Homo sapiens: one gene and its partner. The main gene of each other region encodes a partner of the protein of the gene in region 2 in a complex. Each region holds a gene or a part of one and is shown on either strand. Other genes may lie near its edges.

Region 1 (7,030 bases), on a different chromosome or scaffold from region 2:
TAAATTCTCTATGTTAAATATATATGGATTTTGTTATCAGAATAGGAAAAAACAAAGGAAAAGAAAAAGTGTAAACAGCCATTTTGGGGTACGTACTCAGAGTAGCCAGATGGCAAGTGCATGCCATGCCCGGCCTCAGCCCCGCCCTCTGGTCCCTGTGCCGGCTGTGCCAGGTGCCCTCTTGCTAGGCTACATGTTCCTTGCAGATCGGCTTCACCACCGACCCTCGGATGGCCCGCTCCTCCCCCTACCCCACTGACGTGGCCCGAGTGGTGAATGCCCCCATTTTCCACGTGAACTCAGATGACCCCGAGGCTGTCATGTACGTGTGCAAAGTGGCGGCCGAGTGGAGGAGCACCTTCCACAAGGACGTGGTTGTCGATTTGGTGAGTGACTCTGGGGACAGCACGTCCTGGGCAGAGCATCTGACCCACCCCTCTTGCCCTCGGCACCCCTGTGTCCCAAGGAGAGGAGCTTGTCTAGATGAGTCACCTCAGGGCTCTCTACTGCCAGGCCTCATGCTGGTTCCTTTGAGCTCCAAATAGTTCAGGCCTGTAAGCACCAAGGAATGCTTCCCAGGCAGGAGCTGTGGTGGTGAGGAGGGCCACTCCTCATTGACAGAGCAGCTCTACTGTGTGAAGGAGAGATACACAGAATCCTAATTCTAGAGAAGGTAAACTCCAGGGCAGGCATGAGGAATGAAGAACGTGGCCATCACCTAGGAGAGATGGGGCAGGTGCCTGAACAGCACTTCTTCCCAAGGGGCCAGCCCTTGTCTCTGACATCCTCTCACTGCTCTGAGCAGGTGTGTTACCGGCGCAACGGCCACAACGAGATGGATGAGCCCATGTTCACGCAGCCGCTCATGTACAAGCAGATCCGCAAGCAGAAGCCTGTGTTACAGAAGTACGCTGAGCTGCTGGTGTCGCAGGGTGTGGTCAACCAGCCTGAGTATGAGGTACGTCCCTGCGGCTCTATCCCAGTGCGCCTTTCCAGGGCTGGCGATGACTAGAAAAGGTGGGCCACAGGGCCAGTTCTCACTTTTGCCAGTTATGAGGATACACGTGAGAGGATGTGAAATATTTACAACTACAGCATTTCAATGCATAACTTTTTGGAGAATCTGGGCCACTGAGATGCTTTATAAAGGAAGTGGGCCTTAAACAGTGTTTTGGGGAAGGGAAGGGGATGTTTTCAGGTTGAGGTAGTAGCAGCCCAGTAGGTTTTCTCAGATTTCACAAATTGTGCATGGTTGAGAGGTGGGTGGTGGATCCAGCTTGGTAAGGGGCCTGTTGTAATCTGGATAGTAAGTGCTGGTTGGTTGTGAGTGGGAAGGCCAAGCAGCTGCCCTAGAGAGGGAGAGGGTGGGTGTGAGGAGCTATATCTGAGCATGGGAACAGGACAGATCCCAGATCAGAACAACCTGATAGCCTGTAGCCTATGCTGGAGACAGAGCTTTGTGAACCAGTTTTTTTTTTGTTTTGTTTTGTTTTTTGAGACGGAGTCTAGCTCTGTCACCCAGGCTGGAGTGCCGTGGCATGATCTTAGCTCACTGCAACCTCCACCTCCTTACTTCAAGCAGTTTTCATGTCTCAGCGTCCCAAGTACCTGGGATTACAGGTGCGAGCCACCACGCCTAGCTAATTTTTGTATTTTTAGTAGAAACAGGGTTTCCCCGTGTTGGCCAGGCTGGTCTTGAACTCCTGACCTCAAGTGATCTGCCTGTCTTGGCCTCCCAAAGTGCTGGGATTATAGGCATGAGCCACTGCGCCTGGCCTGGACCAGTTCTTAAGAAAAAATGTGGTGGGCTGGGCGTGGTGGCTCATGCCTGTAATTGCAGCACTTTGGGAGACTGAGGCAGGTGGATCATGAGGTCAAGAGATCGAGACCATCCTGGCCAACATGGTGAAACCCCGTCTACTAAAAATACAAAAATTTGCTGGGCGTGGTGGCACGCACTTGTAGTCCCAGCTACTCAGGTGGCTGAGGCAGGAGAATCGCTTGAACCCGGGAGGCGGAAGTTGCAGTGAGGCAAGATCGCGCCATTGCACTCCAGCCTGGTGACAGAGCATGACTCCGTCTCAAAAAAAAAAAAAAAAAGTGGTGAAGGGTTAGGGGTTCAAACTCCGAGCAGAATCTCTACCCAGCAAATGTGAGGAAGAAACTTTTGGGAGTGAAAAGAATAAAATCTTAGAAAGGTGTTATGCCTATTGAGAAGGAGCAGGCCCAGAGGCTGAGATGTTTTGCATCCACGAAGTGTGGGACTATGGGTGGGCATGCACGGGAGTTGTGCCAGGGGTATGGTTGGGCTTGCGTGGTGGCTGTCAGAAAGTGTGGGGGTACAGGTGGGCGTGTGCAGTAGTCATGCCCTGTGCCAGTCACGCTGTGTTGTGCCCAACCCTCCAGGAGGAAATTTCCAAGTATGATAAGATCTGTGAGGAAGCTTTTGCCAGATCTAAAGATGAGAAGATCTTGCACATTAAGCACTGGCTGGACTCTCCCTGGCCTGGTGAGTGAAGAAACAGTGCCACAAATAAGCTCCTTTGAGGATCTGATGTAACGAGGCATCCTCTTCCCAGAAAAAATTCATGCTTTCCACTTTGTACCCACAATGCACAGTTGTATGCACCATTTCAGCAAAGCCCCCTGCAGACCCTGGACCCAGACCCCTGCATTAATGTTTTCTGGGGAACACAGTGTGAGCTACATTGTCTCTCACCCTGCTTCTCCCCAAAATCACGTGTCTGCCATTTTGTGGTCCCTGGAAAAGTAGAGCAGATGTCATGCCTCAGTTGTTCTTCTTCTCCTAGGCTTCTTCACCCTGGACGGGCAGCCCAGGAGCATGTCCTGCCCCTCCACGGGTCTGACGGAGGATATTCTGACACACATCGGGAATGTGGCTAGTTCTGTGCCTGTGGAAAACTTTACTATTCATGGAGGTAACACGCTCTGTGCTGACCTGTGGAAATGTTGGGGCCCAGGCCAGGGGCGACGACTGTCTAGGACTGTGACCTTGGCCCCCACCCATCATGTGTCCTACAGAGACTCCCTTCCTGCCCTGCTCAAGGCCTCTGGGGTGGTTGGATGGAGCCACCTCTCCCACTCCCTGCCCTTAGCACGATCCTACACTTCCTCAGTGGTAAAGGAGAGACTGAGGTCACAGCTTTTCCAGCAAGTCAGGAACCCAGAAACTACGAGTAAAGAAGGCTCCGCTCTTGCCATGGGCACGCTGAGAAGCAAGGCAGGCATGTGCAGGCAGGGCCTGCAGCAGCTGGTGAGAGCTGTGTCTCTGCAGGGCTGAGCCGGATCTTGAAGACTCGTGGGGAAATGGTGAAGAACCGGACTGTGGACTGGGCTCTAGCGGAGTACATGGCGTTTGGCTCGCTCCTGAAGGAGGGCATCCACATTCGGCTGAGCGGCCAGGACGTGGAGCGGGGCACATTCAGGTAACGTTCTGGGCAGTTTTGTTTGCCCTCCAAAGAGTAGAAGATGGAAAGGGAGGGGTTCTGGTGTTTCTTTTCCGGAAGACGGTTAGAAACCGGAAGAGTCACATTGCTCTCAGGCTGAAAACCTCTGTCCCTCATTTGCTATGGGTGCTTCTGTTAAGACCTGGGTGGGGCCGACCCTGCAGCTGCCTGGCCAGAAGTCCAGGTCACAGAGCATGGCATCTGCTGGTGCTTCGTGCGGGTCCCCAGCGTATTTGCTTGTCAAGTCAGAGCTCCTAATTATTACCTCTGTTGTCCTGTCTCAGCCACCGCCACCATGTGCTCCATGACCAGAATGTGGACAAGAGAACCTGCATCCCCATGAACCATCTCTGGCCCAATCAGGCCCCCTATACTGTGTGCAACAGCTCACTGTCTGAGTACGGCGTGCTGGGTGAGTGCCTGGAGCCACACCACCAGGGCCTGTCACCCACCCACCCCCGCTGGGCCTACTGGCTGGTGTCCTGGACATGGTTTTCTCCTTCCTTTGTCCCTTGTAGGCTTTGAGCTGGGCTTCGCCATGGCCAGTCCTAATGCCCTGGTCCTCTGGGAAGCCCAATTTGGTGACTTCCACAACACGGCCCAGTGTATCATCGACCAGTTCATCTGCCCGGGACAAGCCAAGTGGGTGCGGCAGAATGGCATCGTGTTGCTGCTGCCCCATGGCATGGAGGGCATGGTGAGCCTCTGGCCCTTCCCTGCCAGACCTAGGACTTGGGAAGGGCCTGTGTAGGACCCTGACCCCAAAGACTGGCACGAGAGCCAGTGGCTCACACCAGCCTCCTAAGGACTCTGCTGGTGCTTCCCATCCATCTCAGATGGGATGTCACTTCAGAAAGCCAGAGTAGCCCATCTGGATGTGGCTAGCATGCCCCGTCCCTGCTGGTGCAGACTCCCTAGATGCACAGGCGTCCAAGTGTGGAAATGATGAGCCAAGTGCTTTGCTGGTGGGAGGGGGAAGGAACTGAACCCTGCCATCAAGAAAAAAGATAACCAGAAATGAGCTAGTTGGTTGAGGAGGAACAGCAGATGCGGCAAATGTCAGTACGCAAGAGCTCTTAAACTGTAACTTGCGTGTGTGGTTCCAGGGTCCAGAACATTCCTCCGCCCGCCCAGAGCGGTTCTTGCAGATGTGCAACGATGACCCAGATGTCCTGCCAGTGAGTAATACAGGCCCTGTCAGCCCAGCCATTCTCGGGGTGTCTGGTGGGAAACCTGGGGAAGAGCAATCTATCTGGTCATCCTGAAGTGGCAGACCGTGCCTCTGTCCCTTTCTCCATCCTGGGGAGCTCACGTGAGTGGACAGGTGTGGCCCCATGCTTCTGGGCGCCCTGGGATGAGAGACTTCCTCAGAGCACAGAGGAAGGTGCAGGGACTGCCTCCATTGGCTTCCTGCTGTTGCTGCAAGCACAGAAACGCCATGTGAGCTCCTCAGCAAGGGCTCCTGCGGGATGCTTCCAGACCCTGATTCAGGTCTGGAAGCCCTGAGGAGGAGAGAACTTTGGGGCGATTCCAGTGAAACTTTAAGAACTCAAAGAACCAGCCTGGGCAACATGGTGAGACCCCGTCTCTACAAAAATTTTAAAAAGTAGCTGGGCGTGATGGTGCACGCCTGCAGTCCCAGCTACTTGGGAGGCTGAGGTGGGAGGATTGCTTGAGCTTGGGAGGTCAAGGCTGCAGTGAGCCAAGATCGTGCCACTGCACTCCAACCTGGGTGACAGAGCAATACCCTGTCTTAAAAAAAAAAAAAAAAAGAACTGTGCTGGGTGTGGTGGCTCAAGCCTGAAATCCCAGCACTTTGGGAGGCCCAGGCAGGCGGATCATGAGGTCAGGAGTTTGAGACCAGCCTGGCCAATATGGTGAAACCCTGTCTTTACTAAAAATACAAAAACTAGCTGGGCATGGTGGCGCCCACCTGTAATCCCAGCTAGTCTGAGGCTGAGGCAGGAGAATTGCTTAAACCCGGGAAGCAGAGGTTGCAGTGAGCCAAGATTGTGCCGCTGCACTCCAGCCTGGGCAGCTCCGTCTCACAAAAAAAGAACTGGCCAGGCGCAGTGGCTCACGCCTGTAAGCTCAACACTTTGGAGGCCCAGGCAGGTGGATCACGAGGCCAGGAGTTTGAGACCACCCTGGCCAATATAGTGAAACCCCGTCTCTACTAAAAATACAAAAATTATTCAGGCGTGGTGGCGGGCACCTGTAGTCCCAACTACTCAGGAGGCTGAGGCAGAGAATCGCTTGAACCCGGGAGGTGGAGGTTGCAGTGAGCCAAGATTGCGCCACTGCACTCCAGCCTAGGCGACAGAGGGAGACTCCTGTCTCAAAAAAAAAAAAAAAAAAAAAAAACTCAAAGAAAATGATTAGGTGTCAGTGTCTAAGGAAAATTGGTTTTAGGTAGAACTTGTGTCTCTTAAAGTGGTATTTGTTTCATGCTGGGCAATAGCTTTCAGAGAAATAGTATGGATTGAGTGGGACTGAGGCTCTCCTCCAGGGTATGAGGCTGGCCGAAGGAGCTTGCTGGACTCACTTGTTAGTGTCAGCTTATGTCTCCTGGGGAGTCAGTGTGTTAGGCCATTCTTGTGTTGCTATAAAGAAAAACCTGAGACTGGGTAATTTATAAAGAAAAGTTTAATTGGCTCACAGTTCTGTAGGCTGTACAGGAAGCATGATGCTGGCATCTGCTCAGCTTCTGGGGAGGCCTCAGGAAGCTTACAATCATGACAGAAGATGAAGTGGGAGAGCAGGCATGTCACATGGCCAGAGCAGGAGTAAGAGAGTGGGGGAGAGGGGCCACACACTTTCAACAACCAGATCTCGTGTGAACTCAGAGTGAGAGCTCACTCATCACCAAGGGGATGGCCCAAGCTCTAATCCTAACACCTCCCACCAGGCCCCACCTCCAGCAGTGGGAGATTACAATTCAACATGAGATTTGGGCAGGGACAAATATCCAAACTAGATCACCTGAGGGCCCCCACATGCCCCAGAAGACTCAGTGCTGTGTCCTGGCCTCTGGCCATTTCCTTCCCTGCTGCAGGACCTTAAAGAAGCCAACTTCGACATCAATCAGCTATATGACTGCAATTGGGTTGTTGTCAACTGCTCCACTCCTGGCAACTTCTTCCACGTGCTACGACGCCAGATCCTGCTGCCATTCCGGAAGCCGGTCAGTGGCAGGGCCTCCCTTGCTCAAACGAGGCCTGGCCCTGCCCTGTTGGTGCAGGGAAGGGCTCCTCAGAGAGCCTCTTGCTTGGGGTTAGCTAGGTGGGCACCTGCAGGGGTAGTGTGGACAGGACATGGTGTCAGGGAGCCTCGCCCTTCCTCCTCACTGCTGCCATGAGGGAACTGCGTGTTCTGTGTGTCCTCTTCCCCGACTGGGCCCCTGCATACTGCTGAGCACCACATGCGGAGCAATCACATAGGCTGCAGGCCCCAGCCCGGTGGGGAGGACGGATGTTTGAACAGGTGGTCATAGGGGGTGTGCTGAGCTCTGGAAGAGAGGTGAGCCCTGGCAGAGGCCAAGGGAGTGCAGGGTCCCCAGGGAG
Region 2 (7,657 bases):
ATGCATAAGGGATTTAGCCACATTTAGTAAATAAAAAATTCATTACAGTTGCAACTATTATTATGTCAGAGTGTATTAAAAAATGGCATAATTTTTTTCCATCTAATGTCAGATAACATATTGCTCAAACATGCAGTTCAATACAACATTTTATTCAAAAACAAATTTTGAAAAACTTTGTTGAAAAACTCAGAATTATCACAATAAGGAGTCAATGTCTGAAGGTCTTAAACACAAGGTAGTAGGCAATTTTGCCAAGGCTACATACAATTCAAAAAGTACAGATGAATAATTTCACAAATTTTTCTCTAGAAAAATACTTTTAATTCATCAGAATTAAAAAATAGCTAGTTGTTTACTTTTACCATTTGAAGACAAAGGTGGCACTTGCTAACCAATAAAAACACAAGTTTTGATGGAAGTAGCATTTCTCTCTTCAAAATAAAAACCTAAAGTGAATATAATAAAGTTATATTGTGCTGTGGGAATTGTCTTTTTATGAATTAATACTGACTTTTTAAAGACAGTGTTCTGGGTCATGGAGAAACAATGAGAGAGCAATAGGGGAGAAATGAGAGGGAATGTGACTTTTCCTTTTTCCAATAATTCTCCTCTCTCCCACAATGGCAGCCAATTCATATTTCTAGAGGAAAATGCCTATATATATAAAAATATATTCAGTTAATAATTCTGCTATCCATTCAACAAAATTATTGCTCTAAGATGATCACTTCCTATACAAATCATTGGAAAAAATTAAAAATATATTTTCTCGTTCTGTTTAAGAATAAGAATGAAAAACCGAGTACTATGAGTCTTTTGAGTATTTCCTGTAAGCTCTTCAAGAATGGGCTCTGACGACTAAGTGACAGATGAGGATCCAGTTTTGGAAAAGAAGAAAGGGACAGGGTAGGAAGGAGAGAAAGAAATAACTCTTAGGGCAGTGGTTTTCAAAGCAGCAACAGCATCCGTGAGAAATGCAAATTATCAGGTCCCATCCGAGTCCTGCAGAATCAGAATCTGGGTGGGATGGAGGAATCTGTTTTAACACACTGTCAGGGATTCTGATGCACACTCAGGTTTGAGAACCACTGTATTAGGGAATCCTGATTCTATCACCAAAGAGGATTCTGGGGCATCTGTTAATGTTTAAGCTTTAATTCTTTAAAAATAATTATTTAATACAAACTTGGATCTTTAGCTACCCAATTTATGCTAAAAATCAAAGGAGGATTTCAAGTTTTTGCTTGAATTAGTTCTTTGTTTCCTGTATGGTTTATGTACTTTTCAGATTAAAAAAACCAAAATTCTAAGTAGAGACAATGTCCAGCAGGTTGGCAGGCATGGCTGCCTGCCGCTTCACAACGCCCAGATCTTGGGTTAGTCTTCAACCTTGTAAGAACAGAACCCAATTTTATCACTTCAAGACAGAAATACGTGGGCCTTGGGGAAGCTAAATTAGAAGGCCTGATAACTGGAATGTCAATCTGTAAATTTACTTTGAGATTATAACTGCTAAGACAACTAGAAGATTCAGATCTAATGTTCTTCCTCTTTCAGGACTAGCTACACAGAAAATCAAATTACTATCAGCTGACTGAAGACACATTGCTTCAGAGTAGAGTTGGGTGCTCTCATTCAGACACTAGCTCCAAAAGTCTGGGACATCCACATCAACCGCAGGCTTCTCGTCTTCAGATAAATTCTTACATAGGTGGTTCCTGTCCATACTGCACTTAGCCCACTATACTTCCACTTGGAAAATGCTATAAAATAACTGAAGAGGTTGCACTGTCTTATCACACTTGGGAGGCATACCGAGTCTTTAACTCACCCATTCATCACCACTTATGGGCCAGGTCCTGCGTAAAGCATTGGGACTAGAAAATTATTAAGACAATTCTAATACTCAAAAGACTTTTAGAGGGAGGGGGGAGTGTAAAAACAGACACAAGCAGATAAGTATAAAACAACGCAGTAAATGCAATAATACAAACATGCACAGAATATGAGAAACTCCCAGACGCAACACTTGGAATGGGGCGGGGAGAGCTCAGGAAGGTCTTCTCTAAGGAAATGGTGCCTTTCCTGGAAGAGGGCAGAGGACCGGGAAGGATAAAATTTATTTACAAACCATTGTAAATGACTACTTTAATCTACTTAACAGTGATATTAGTTTCTGTTTCATAAAGTGAAAATTTCTAATTTTACCTAAAATCTGTTCTAAGTGAGGCATTAAATCTGTGCAGTTTCAAACCAAATTTGGTGGAAAGATACCTAAATCAGTGAAAAATCCAAATTATGGAAGAGTACACGAAAAACGGTTTTGTTTTGCTTACTTTCAACTAACACCGAGTGTGTGCCAAATAGAGCTCTCAGGATTGAGCTTTGACCATTTGGCACAACTTTTATTTGAAAGTAATTTATTTTAACAAAATTAATATCATGCCACTCTCATTTGAACTGTGACTTCCCTTAGTGACTATCTTGTACGGTTTCTGAAAGCAGTTTGTTATATCAAGGAGGGACAAAAGCGGTAATTTTCATGGCTTTTCAGTTGAATATGAACTTCTTAGAGTAGGGGAAAAAGGCAAAGAAAAAGAGCAAAAGCAGGAAATGCTATTAGATACATTAGCCTAGATTCTGTAGCTTCCTTTTCTAAATCTCGCTATATGAGATTTAGTACGTAACAATTTCCCGTAAATCAAAGACCTCGGAAAAATATAAGTCGGAAACAATAAAACCTAAATCGTCTTTGCGTTCTCATTTCACAGCGAGTTAAAATGTAGATGCGATGCGGATACTGCGTCCCCTGGCACTGCCTCAATTCAAAAGTTAGCACTTTGCGCTAAGGTGGCTCTGAGCACTCCCCTCCGACCCCGCTTCCCCCCTAGAGGAGCATGAATGCACCACCGGAGCCCCTCCCCTCTTGCTCCTTACAGTTCTGGCAAGGGTCCGACGCGAGGGCTTTGTCCGACTAGTTCCACCTCCCACCCAGTACACCAGAAGGGAGGACAGTCGCTCCGCCCGCAGGGCTGTTCGGACGCGCATGCGCACTGGGGCGTCAGCTGGCCAACCAGCGCGCGACGCACGGCCAGGCGCTCCCACCTGCCCTCGCCCCGGTGGGCGACAGGCTTTGACGGGCTCCTAGCCGCAGTGCCCTCTGAGCCCCCAACCCTGAATTCTCAGCTGGGCCCTCCCGGCTCCACCTGCCCCCAACACCCTCCCCGCTCCGGCGGCGGCAGGGCGCTCGAGGCAAGCCCGGGCAGGGGGACGAGCTGCAGGTGACGCCCTGGTTGGCTGGAGCGTGCCAGGCCTTCCCCCTACGGCGCCTGCGCACAGCCAGGGCGTGGATTCAACCTTCCGCGGTGCCCTGCCTCTAGCTGACGTCAGCACCCTGGTAACTGCTGCACCTTCGCCGCGCGCTTTGAGCCCCCGCCCCTCCGCCTTCTTACCGGCCGCCCTGAGGGGTCTCGGCGCGCTCGGCTGAGAGCTTTAGGAGGCGCGAGCGAGCACTCCGACTAGGCCGGAGGGACTCGGAAAATGATGGTCCGGCAGGTGGTGGGTCCTGACCCAAGGGCCTGCAAGGAACGGAGAAGGGCAACCGAGCACGCGCTGGATCTTGGGGAAGAAGGGGAAAGGGACTGCTGGAGGAGGCGCGCATGCGCCGTGCGGTCCTTCGCCCCGGGCGCCCTGGCAGGGGGCGAGGCTCTGCGGAACTCCCGGAGCTGGCGCCAGGGAACAAGTCTCAGTGGAGAGCCTCGAATTTTAAAAGTCTCATTTAAGTATTTCTTTTGGTTTTCCTTGTATAAATATAGCTAACTTTTAAACATTTCTTTTCCGGCTTGTGTTGTTTGCTTTGGACCCTTCAGCACCTATTTTTAAACGTTAAGCATTCCCCAGTCAGCATGAAAGTTTTACTGTTAGTTTTATTTTGTTCCTATAATTTTGATTCCCCCCAGAAACTGCCACAGATGAAATCAAGCCAATAGAATTGAAAGCAAAGATCACCTGGTGGCCATGAAGCCGACCATCCTTAGGCAGAAACTCCTTACCTGAGGAATTTAGAGGTAACTAGACTTCCCTGTTACCTAAAGCCAGCATCTGGTACCAGACTTCTTCCCTCCAAATTTAAAAGTAACTAGAATTTCTATGCATCTCCGTAATGCACGCATGTCAAAACTCATTGTGCACCCCTTGCCATCTGCTCCATGCCCCAATCAACCCCTGTCCCCTACCATCCAGATACTTTATTACCCTCACATACTTGCACAGGAGTTACATATGCCACTAGTACAAAGTCCTCAGAAAATCCCCCAAGTGTTATGCCTCTCCACAAGGTGGCAAACGGAGATTTGGGAACAATTTGAGTTCATGTCCCTTTTCCATTGTCTGAACTTTGGCAAATTCAATCCAAGTTGGGTTCATTTAGCCAGGATCCCTCTAAGTTCATTCAAGAATTTCGGGCTTTATTGCCTTTGATTTAACCTGGCAAGACACATTTGTGGTATTAACTATTTGCTGTTCCCACGAAGAAAAAATCACGGTCTTTAGCTCGAGTTTGGGCAGACGAAACTCATGTTGGCAATCCTAATAATAGAGCCAGGGCAGAAGCTGTCCCCAACACAGAACCCAATTGGCAATACCACGCTGCCAATGCCAGCCCAAACAGAGACAGGGGAAGAGAAGATTATAACATGTTTGTTGGAAGGAATGAAATAAAACCTGTTAATTTTTCTAAATTATGAGAGATCACTCAGGACCAAGGACCCTTCCCTTTTCCAAGCTAGACTAATGGAGGCCATGCATAAATATACAGATTTAGATCCTGAAAGCCCTGAGGGCCAATCCCTTCTGGCCATACATTTTATAAGTCAGGCTTCCCCAGACATCAGACAAAAACTCCAAAAATTAGAGCAAGGCCCACAAACTCCCTTTTGTACTTTATTAAAAGCAGCCTTTAAGGACACTGAAGTTGAGAATGTCCCAAACCTCCAGGTTGCAAGCCATCCCTGGGACCCTGTCCTCACTGCAAATTGGAAGAATGAGTGTCCCTCCCTCATGAAGGGGGGGCCACCTCTTCCTTCTAGGCTATGACAGCCACAGTCTCACCAACCTACCTGACAAGGGGATCCTGCAGAACGAGGGTGAGGGTGAGGGCGAGAGCAAGGGCAAACACCTCTAATTCTATTCCTGGATTATGATCAAGCCTCTGAAATGTCAGTCATCCATCCTCTAGATGGGGCCTTGAAGCCATCCACGGCCCTGTCTTTTCCATCTCTGTGGATGATCCCAGGGCAAATCTGATTGTGGCTGAACAACAGATAATGTTACTCATAGATACACGGGACAGTTATTCAGCTTTATAAACATTTACTATGGCCCAATGTGCCAGTCCTCCATTTTCCTCATGGATATTGATGGAAAACCCCAATGAGGCTGTTTCACACAGCCATTCCCTTGTAAAATGAAAGGCTATTCCTTTACTCCTTTTTAGCCCTGTTCTATTAGGTTGTGATTTACAAAATTACAAGCTAATTTACAGCTAAGGCCCCACCTTCTAGCTGTATTAACACTTCACCAAAAGAGCCCCTGCAGCTTCTCCCAGATAGCAATCTACTTCAGTATGTGGATGACTTACTAATCTGTAGTCCTAACCAGGCTGTTCCAGACCAAAATACAGTATTAGTATTCAACAAACTTGCTAATTGTGGGTACAAAGTATCTCCTTCTAAAGCACAAATATCCACACAAAGGGTTCAATTTTGGGGTCTTATTTTAATTCCCAGTGAAAAAGCCTTTGTAGTGCTTGTACAGATCTTAAACGTGACAATTGTGGTAACTAAACAACAGCTTCAGTCATTTTTGGGTAAGGCTGGGTTTTGCAGAATATGGATTCCTTCCTTTGAGTTAATAGCAAAACCTTTATATGAAGCCCTCAAGGGAACTCAGGAACAGTCTCTATACTGGACTAATGAGATGAAGCATGCTCTAAACACTTTAAAATAGGCTTTAATCTCAGCCCTGACCTCAGCCCTACCAGATCTGACTAAGCCTTTTTCTATGTACATGAACAAAAGGGAATAGCTTTGGGAGTCTTAGCCCAAGATTGAGGGGCCCTCTAAGTGCCCTATAGCATTTTTTTTTCTTTGAGATGGAGTCTCACTCTATTGTTCAGGCTGGAGTGCAATGGCATGACCTTGGATCACTGCAACCTCTGCTTCCCAAGCTCAAGTGATTCTCCTGCCTCAGCCTCCCAAGTATCTGGGATTATAGGTGTGCACCACCGCGCCCAGCTAATTTTTGCATTTTTAGTAGAGTCAGGGTTTCACCATGTTGGCCAGGCTGGTCTCAAACTCCTGACCTCGTGATCTGACTGCCTCAGCCTCCCAAAGTGCTGGCATTACAGGTGTGAGCCACTGTGCCTGGCCCCTATAGCATATTTAAAAAAAAACTTTAGACCTAGTATGCCAGGGATGGCTTAAGAGCCTTAGCAGCGGTGGCCCTTAGTGCAAGAAGCCTCAAAAATGTATTACCTGCCCCTCCTGAACTCTTATGGTTTTGTGGCACTGCTATTAATTATTTAAATCCTTTTCAAGCTTTGGCCCTATCCCACCTTGATAATTCTCTTCGTTATGATGATTGTACCCTGGGTACAATAGCTCCTGCCCAAATCACTGTCTTAAACATAACTTCCAATCTAGAATCCCATTCTAGATGAAAAAGGGCCCTAGGACTTATTGTTGGAGTTGTGGGAATCATCACAACTCTCACCCCTTGGGGAGGTTGTACTTATCATGAAATCACACTATGTGAACATGCTGCCTCCCTCACAATCGCAAAAACTAGCACAAGTCTATCAGCACTAGAAAAGTCTGTAGCCTCACTAGCAGGAATGGTTGTTGATATCAGAAGGGCTCCAGATTACCTCCTAGCTGAATAAGGAGGAGTCTGTGCTGTCATTAACAAAATGTGTTGCACCTACATTAATGTGTCTGGAGAAGTGGAAGCTGATGTCCAAGAAATTTTCAAACAAACCAAATGGCTACACACACCTTCTCAAAGTAACCCAAAGTGGGCCAAAATCCTTACTAATTGGTTCCCAAAAATCACCTGGTTTCTCCCATTCCTTGGACCTTTATTCCTCATTATTCTTCCTCTAATATTTGGTCCCTGCCTCTTTAATGCTCTCATTAAGTTTCTATCTTCCAGATTACAATGATTCCACCTACAGATGATTATGTAATCCCAATACCAGCCTGCAACAGCAACTTCCACATATATGGGGCCTCTTGATGGAATCCGGTGTCTCCTGTCCCCAGTAAGTTTTTCATAACCCTTCATGACACAGAGCAAGAAAGGGAAAAATGTGACTTATCCCCTCAATGCTCCCTTTCAGCAAGAAGTAGCCAGACAGACCTGACACCCCTCTTCACTGTGCCGTTTCCCCTTTCTTGAAACCATAATAGGCAGAAGGTACAGAGGAGCATGGGGGATTCGAAAGGGTCAAATATTTGACCAAGATATCTGTCAGGGGGAAAATGAGGAGAGCAAAGATCACCTGGTGGCCATCAAGCAGACTATCTGCAGGCAAAACTCCTTACCTGAGGAATTTAGAAGTGATTAGACTTCCCCATTATAAAAACCTGGCATCTGG

The links.
Region 1: the proteins of TCAIM (region 2) and OGDH are in contact, whole or in part, in a cryo-EM structure (PDB 8I0K), measured with the Homo sapiens proteins. Residues at the interface, in NP_001269842.1 of Homo sapiens: Glu214, Gln234, Arg235, Ser236, Trp237, Gly238, His241, Ser244, His247, Ser248, Arg251, Gln255, Asp272, Arg273, Thr286, Met287, Asp288, Val289, His290, His291, Glu331, Leu332, Gln333, Pro334, Val335, Arg375, Tyr376, Glu441, Ser443, His473; in NP_001425937.1 of Homo sapiens: Gly301, Tyr304, Arg323, Tyr354, Arg356, Ile358, Arg364, Asn365, Lys387, Glu391, Tyr394, Cys395, Gly396, Thr398, Glu399, Lys401, Lys402, Lys561, Met602, Pro605, Glu667, Gly668, Ile669, Asn709, Met734, Ala735, Ser736, Pro737, Asn738, Gln772.

What each region holds. Positions count from the first base shown.
Region 1 is NC_000007.14:44,693,619-44,700,648, forward strand, and holds part of OGDH (2-oxoglutarate dehydrogenase complex component E1 isoform 1 precursor), read left to right. Parts: intron 1-206; coding exon 207-386; intron 387-805; coding exon 806-958; intron 959-2,406; coding exon 2,407-2,509; intron 2,510-2,810; coding exon 2,811-2,939; intron 2,940-3,295; coding exon 3,296-3,446; intron 3,447-3,751; coding exon 3,752-3,879; intron 3,880-3,985; coding exon 3,986-4,164; intron 4,165-4,573; coding exon 4,574-4,645; intron 4,646-6,522; coding exon 6,523-6,651; intron 6,652-7,030. UniProt on the Homo sapiens protein: 2-oxoglutarate dehydrogenase (E1o) component of the 2-oxoglutarate dehydrogenase complex (OGDHC). Participates in the first step, rate limiting for the overall conversion of 2-oxoglutarate to succinyl-CoA and CO(2) catalyzed by the whole OGDHC.
Region 2 is NC_000003.12:44,334,118-44,341,774, reverse strand, and holds the start of TCAIM (T-cell activation inhibitor, mitochondrial), read right to left. Parts: upstream 3,010-7,657; 5' UTR 2,941-3,009; intron 1-2,940. UniProt on the Homo sapiens protein: May regulate T-cell apoptosis.